2 separate regions of the Homo sapiens genome follow, and region 2 is linked to region 1. Evidence: fine-mapped expression QTL. Tissue or cell type: whole blood. Region 1 holds a variant in brackets; the other region holds the start of a gene. All regions are shown on one strand. Distances are between the middles of the regions.

Region 1 (2,911 bases):
CTGTGCGCGGTGACTCACACCTGTAATCCCAGCACTTTGGGAAGTCGAGGTGGGTGGATCACCTGATGTCAGGAGTTCCAGACCAGTCTGACCAACATGGAGAAACCCCGTTTCTATTAACAATACAGAATTGGCCGGGCGTGGTGGCCCATGCCTGTAATCCCAGCTACTGAGGAGGCTGAGGCATGAGAATCGCTTGAACCCGGGAGGCGGAGGTTGCAGTGAGATCGCGCCATTGCACTCCAGCCTGGGGAACAAGAGCGAAACTCCATCTCAAAAAAAAAAAAAAAAAAAAAAAAAGTTTGCCAAGCAGCCATATTCTCATTAATATTAATGGTATATGTCACTGGTATGGACTAATTTGAAAACATTTTGATTTCTGTTTTCAAGGAAATGTGCAATTTTGATACAGCTGTCTTTCATGAGTAGTTGAGACATTTGAGATGTCTTTGTTAATGTAATTTAGAATTAATTGTGCAAGCTACCGCTTTTCTTTCTTTTTTTTTTTTTTTGAGACGGAGTCTCGCCCTGTCACCCAGGCTGGAGTGTAGTGGTGCCATCTCAGCTCACTGCAACCTCTGCCTCCTGGGTTCAAGCAATTCTCCTGCTTCAGCTTTCCAAGTAGCTGGGACCACAAGTTTGTGCCACCATGCCTGGCTAATTTTTAAAATTTTTTTGCAGAGATGGGGGTCTTGCCAGGCTGCCCAGGCAAGTCTCAAACTCCTGGACTCAAGCGATCCTCCCGCCTCAGTCTCCCAAAGTGCTGGGAGTATAGGCATGGGCCGTCATGCCCAGCCATAATTCTTCCTCCTCCTCCCCCTCCCCCTCATTCTTCGGCTGAATATCTCACTGTAGTTACACATATTTATAAGCCAGTCTGTGGTCAATATGGTGGCTCACTCCTGTGATCCCAGCACTTTGAGAGGGTGAGGTGGGAGGATCACTTGAGTCCAGGAATTTGAGACCAGCTTGGGCTAGTGAGACCTGTCTCTACAAAAATTAAAGAAAAAATTAGCCAGGCATGGTGGCCTGTAATCCCAGCACTTTGGGAGACTGAAGCCGGAGGATTGCTTGAGTCCAGGAGTTTAAGACCAGCCTGGGCAACATAGCAAGACCCTGTCTCTACTAAATTAAATAATTAGCCGGGCGCGGTGGCACATGTCTGTAGTCCCAGCTACTTAGAAGGCTGAGTAGAGGTGGGAGGATTGCTTGAGCCCAGAGGTGGAGGTTTCAGTGAGCCATGATCATGCCCACTGCACTTCAGCCTGGGTGACAGAATGAAACCTTAATCTTAAAAAAAAAAAAAGCCAGTCTATCTCATAGCCAA[G/A]TAAAAGATAAATTAATTTATATTAATTTTATGGTTCCCGGGCAGTGTGCAATATTTTATTTCTTCATGTAGAATTTTTACTGTTTAGTAAGTCCTTGATTTTCAGGGACCCAGAAAACCGATACCCAAGCAGTTTGGTGCTGCTTAAATCATGCAGTGAATAAAGTTTTTTTTTTTTTTTTTTAACAAATGAGAAGCAGCAAAGACTGGAAGCTCCATCAGTAACTAGAGTTGTGAAATGGAATGTGGCTTTTGTGGGTTTGTTGTTGTTGCTTGTTTTTTTTGAGATGGAGTCTTGCGCTGTCACCCAGGCTAGAGTGCAGTGGTGCGATCTTGGCTCACTGCAACCTCCTCTGCCTGCTGGGGTTCAATCAGTTCTTCTGCCTCAGCCTTCCGAGTAGCTGGGACTACAGGCGCACACCACCATGCCTGGCTAATTTTTGTGTTTTTAGTAGAGACAGGGTTTCACCATATTGGCCAGGCTGGTCTTGAACTCCTGACCTCGTGATCCGCCCGCCTTGCCCTCCTAAAGTGCTGGGATTATAGGCATGAGCCACTGCACCTGGCCTTGTGTTGCTTTTGACAGTGCTGGAGACTTACAGTTTATTGACCTTCATATAACAGTTGTTTGAGTACCCTCTGTGTTCCAGTCACCATGCAGAGGTGACAAGCAGGAGCTGTTTTCTGCATCATAGAGAGTTATGTGATAATCAGTTAAGTGCAGAATCCTTCACTTTCTAGGAAAGGAAATACTGCAGTTGTGAATGCAGTTGAGAATGGTTTGAAGCCAATTAGTAAATTGGAATAGTTACTGATGATGAAATACTTACCTCCAGGAATTTTTTAAAAAACTTTAAAACCTTGGTAAAGGCATTTGGTGATTATTTTGCTGGATTAGAAAACCTTAGAAGTTTTTACAGCTTTGATATAAAGTACACCTGTAGAAAGACTGTCACCTGGTACTTCCCTAAAAGACAGCAGTAAAATTTTGCACTCTTTTTTAAAAGAAAGAAGTTAAGTTTCATCTTAATGTCTAGTCAGCAGAGAGAGGGAAGTATGTAACGTTTTAAACCTTTGCTACCGAACAGAACTTTCTGTGATTATGGAAACATTCTGTATCTGTGATGTCCAGTATCATAGCTGAAAGCTGGCCCTTGGCCATGTGAAGTGTGACTAGTGTGACTGAGGAACCGGTTTTTAATTTTATTTAACTCTAATTTAAATTTAAATAGCTACATGGGGCTGATGGCTATGATAATGGAAAGAGCAGATGTAGAACAACATAGGCCCAAGAGCTCACAGACCATGTCTGTTTTGGACACCAATTTCTTGCCCTACTTGTATTCCAAACACATTGACATGTTCATGTGTAAAATAAATATGAATGAATATATAGATGAACGAGTTTGAGAAGTTTTCATCCTTTGAAAGATAAGCTGTTTCAGTTGTCTTTCATGTTATTCCCTGTAATAACTTACAATTGTTACATAGCACATATAATGTGTTTTCCTTATAATGAATTTTTTTTCGTTTCTTGCGATATGCTTGGTCATATTATTCATTTGTTTAGTTTTTGGCATTTCT
Region 2 (2,911 bases), 42 kb before region 1:
TAGACTAATTGGGAAAAAAAGAAAATCAGCGACAAGGGATATTACTGGGATATTTTGCAAAATTGAATATATATGGCCTGTATGTTACAGATGATTACATTGTATTAGTATGAAAGTTTCTTGGAGTGATCATGGAATTCTGATTATGTGGGAGATTATCTTTATTCTTAGTAGATATGTACTGAAATATTTAGGGATAAAGGGTAACAGTGTCTACAAAAACTCAAGTGATTCAGCAAAATAAACCATACACACAGACACATAGATAGCAAATGTGGCAGAATGTTAAAAATTGGTGAATATGGGTTAATTTGGCTGTTAATTGTATTTTCCTTGTAACTTTTCTATAGGGTTTGATATTTTTTTGAATATAAAAAGTTAAGGACTCTTCAAAATCCAAGCAGAGTTTCCCGTTCTGATTTATCATCCTTAGTGTAAGCCACCTTGTCAAAGATACAGTTGTGTGACCAATGAGGGAGTTAATAGTCAGAATGCGTATCTTTCAAAAACTATTGTAATTATTTACATAAATAAGAGAACATTGCAGTTATCTTTTTGTGTCACTATCAACTTGATTCACATCTTTTGTAGGCAGCCTGATAAGGTGGTTTGTCGACGGCCAGGCCTGAATTTCGATCCTGGCTGGTTAAACTTTTTAACCTCGTTGGGACTCAGTTTCCTCATTGTAGGATGCAGAAAATAACTACTTGGTGTGATTGTTGTTTTGAATTGTTATACACCTGGTGTTTACGGAAGCGAGTTTCAATTCATGTGCAAAACCTTTGTCCTACCTTGAATGCTATCTGTATCTTTTCCTTCATTAAACTCATGCAATCCTGGAGGGCACTTAGAGGTGGGAGAGAAAATGACTTCTCCAAGGTCACACCGCTAATCGCGGACCCAGGTTTCCCAGCTTTTGGTCGTGTGCCCTTTCCACGCCTGCCGGAGAGGAGGAAGCGGCGCTCATGGGGTTGCAAGGATGTAGAGGAGCAAAGGGAGAGAAGAGGCCGCGGGAAGAGAGGTGGTGCGAGACCCGCGGAGGCGCCGGCCAAGGACGGGCGCATGGAGCAGCGGGCGGCGCGACCGGCCGGGGTGCGGAGGGGAGAGGCCGCGGCGGGGAGGGAGGGTCCCGCGGGTCCGGTGCCCGGGAGAGGCGGGCGGCCTGGGCCAGCCGCAGGATCGCAGGAGGCGGAGGCCCGGGCCGCGGGCTGGGGTGGGGGAGGCCGAGGGCCAGCGCGGCCATGGGCGGCGGCCACTTCTGCACAGGTGGGTGGGGCGGGGGCGCGGGGCGCTGGGCGCGCGGCGCTGGGGTCCCGACCCCCGGGGCCGGCGGGTGGGGGCGGGGCGGGGGCGGGGCCGGACGGGGGCGGGTCTTGCTGGGTCCCTGCTGGAGCGGCGGCGGCGGCGGCGGCGCAGGCGCGGTTCTCGTCTCCTCCCGGCCGGCGGAGCGAGTGGAGGCTGCAGCCCAGCTCGTCTCGGCGCCCGCGTCGCCGTCGCGAAGCCCCCCGCCCCGCTTCCGCCGCGTCGGAATGAGCTCCCGGAAAGGTGAGTGGCCCGCGGCGCGCCCTCTCCCCGCCACGCGGCCAGCCCGGGCGGGCGGCCCGACCGTTAATGTGTGTCTTCTCTTCCCCAGTGCTGGCCATTCAGGCCCGAAAGCGGAGGCCGAAAAGAGAGAAACATCCGAAAAAGTGAGTCCACGCTGCGCCTGTCCCCGTTCCCCACCCCCGCCCCGTCGGGGGCGCCCGCGGCCGCGCAGGGGAAAGTTGTCCGGGTCCCCGGGCCGGCGGGCGGGCTGGTCCCCCGGGACGCTGGCGCTCGGCTCCTGCCCCCGGCGGGCGGCCCGGGGGGAGGGGCGGCGGCGGGGGAGGGGCGCGCGGGCCGCGGCCGGTTCCCTAGCATCACGGAGCCTCGACCCCGCGACCTCCCGCCCCGGGTCGCCACCGGCCGGCGGGCGGGAGGCCGGCGGAAAGGCGCCGGGCAGGGCGTGCGCACCCGTCCCTTGCCCGCGAGCTGGCCCGGGGGTCGCGGCCCTTTCCGGAAGGGGCCCCGGCGTCTGCCGCTGGGCTCCGGCCCGCCCGCTGCGGGAGTGCAGCGGCTGCGTTGCTCCCACCTGAGCCGCGGGCCGAGGAGGCGGAGGGGCCGAGTGTGCGGGAGGGCGTGTGTCTCGCCTCCCCTTCCTCCCCGGCCCCCGCCTGTCGGCCTTTCTGCTGAGAACCTAAGCTGGTTGTCAAGTGGTTTGCCTCGGGCGTGTTCCTGGCGCGAGTTCAGCCCCGAGACCTGTGCGTTTCGGCTCTCGGGTTTGGATTCGAAACTTTCCGCTCGGGTTGAGCGTGACTTGGGTGCGCTGCGGGCGCCGGGGTCGCGGGCTGCGCAGGGCGGTGGGCGTGTGCGCGGGAGCCGGTCGGAGTGGAAAACGCGCCCGTGGCGGCCACCTCCAGCCTGGCCGCTCACCCGAGCAGGGGGGCCGCTGCCCAAGAACCCTTTCCTGGAGAGCTGCTCCGAGACCGCACAGCGCCGCCGCGTCTTCTCCTTTTCCACTCCTCTCTCCTAATTTTTTTGATTTACCAGCGTTCGACATCGTTATCTCTTCCTCTAGATTAATTGCTTCGCTCTTTTGAGCAAGAATACTCTGTGTGGCATCTTTGGTACTGTGGGGAACGAGAATCCAGCATTATCTTTAATAAAATCCAGAAACATTTTTGGTTGTTTCCTTTGAGGGGTACGTCGCAGCACGCTCACTTTTTTCCCCTTCTCGTTGGCCTTGGTCCTTCAGTTTCACAAAATGTGGATAGTGACTTAAAAATACCTTAAAAAAAAAAAAAAAAGAAAAAACCATTAGAGTAAGGGGAAAGCACTTCCTAAAGAGTTGAAGAACTAATTGGTCGGTAAAAATTGGATATTGAATTCATAA

The links.
Region 2: SRPK2 starts here. The variant in region 1 is fine-mapped to the expression of SRPK2 in whole blood (TOPMed, PIP above 0.99).

The regions. Positions count from the first base shown.
Region 1 is chr7:105,345,458-105,348,368 of GRCh38, reverse strand. The region is part of intron 2 of SRPK2 (SRSF protein kinase 2); the gene reads left to right. Among named protein-coding and RNA genes, the nearest start is that of SRPK2, 42 kb to the left of the region's middle. The variant G/A (reference allele first, on the strand shown) is at 1,328.
Region 2 is chr7:105,387,425-105,390,335 of GRCh38, reverse strand. SRPK2 (SRSF protein kinase 2) reads left to right here and starts at 1,415. Exons shown (of 16, transcript NM_182692.3): 1 at 1,415-1,545; 2 at 1,634-1,688. The coding sequence starts at 1,530. RefSeq lists silencers at 1,045-1,214, 1,315-1,364, 1,375-1,444, 1,475-1,604, 1,945-2,064 and 1 more.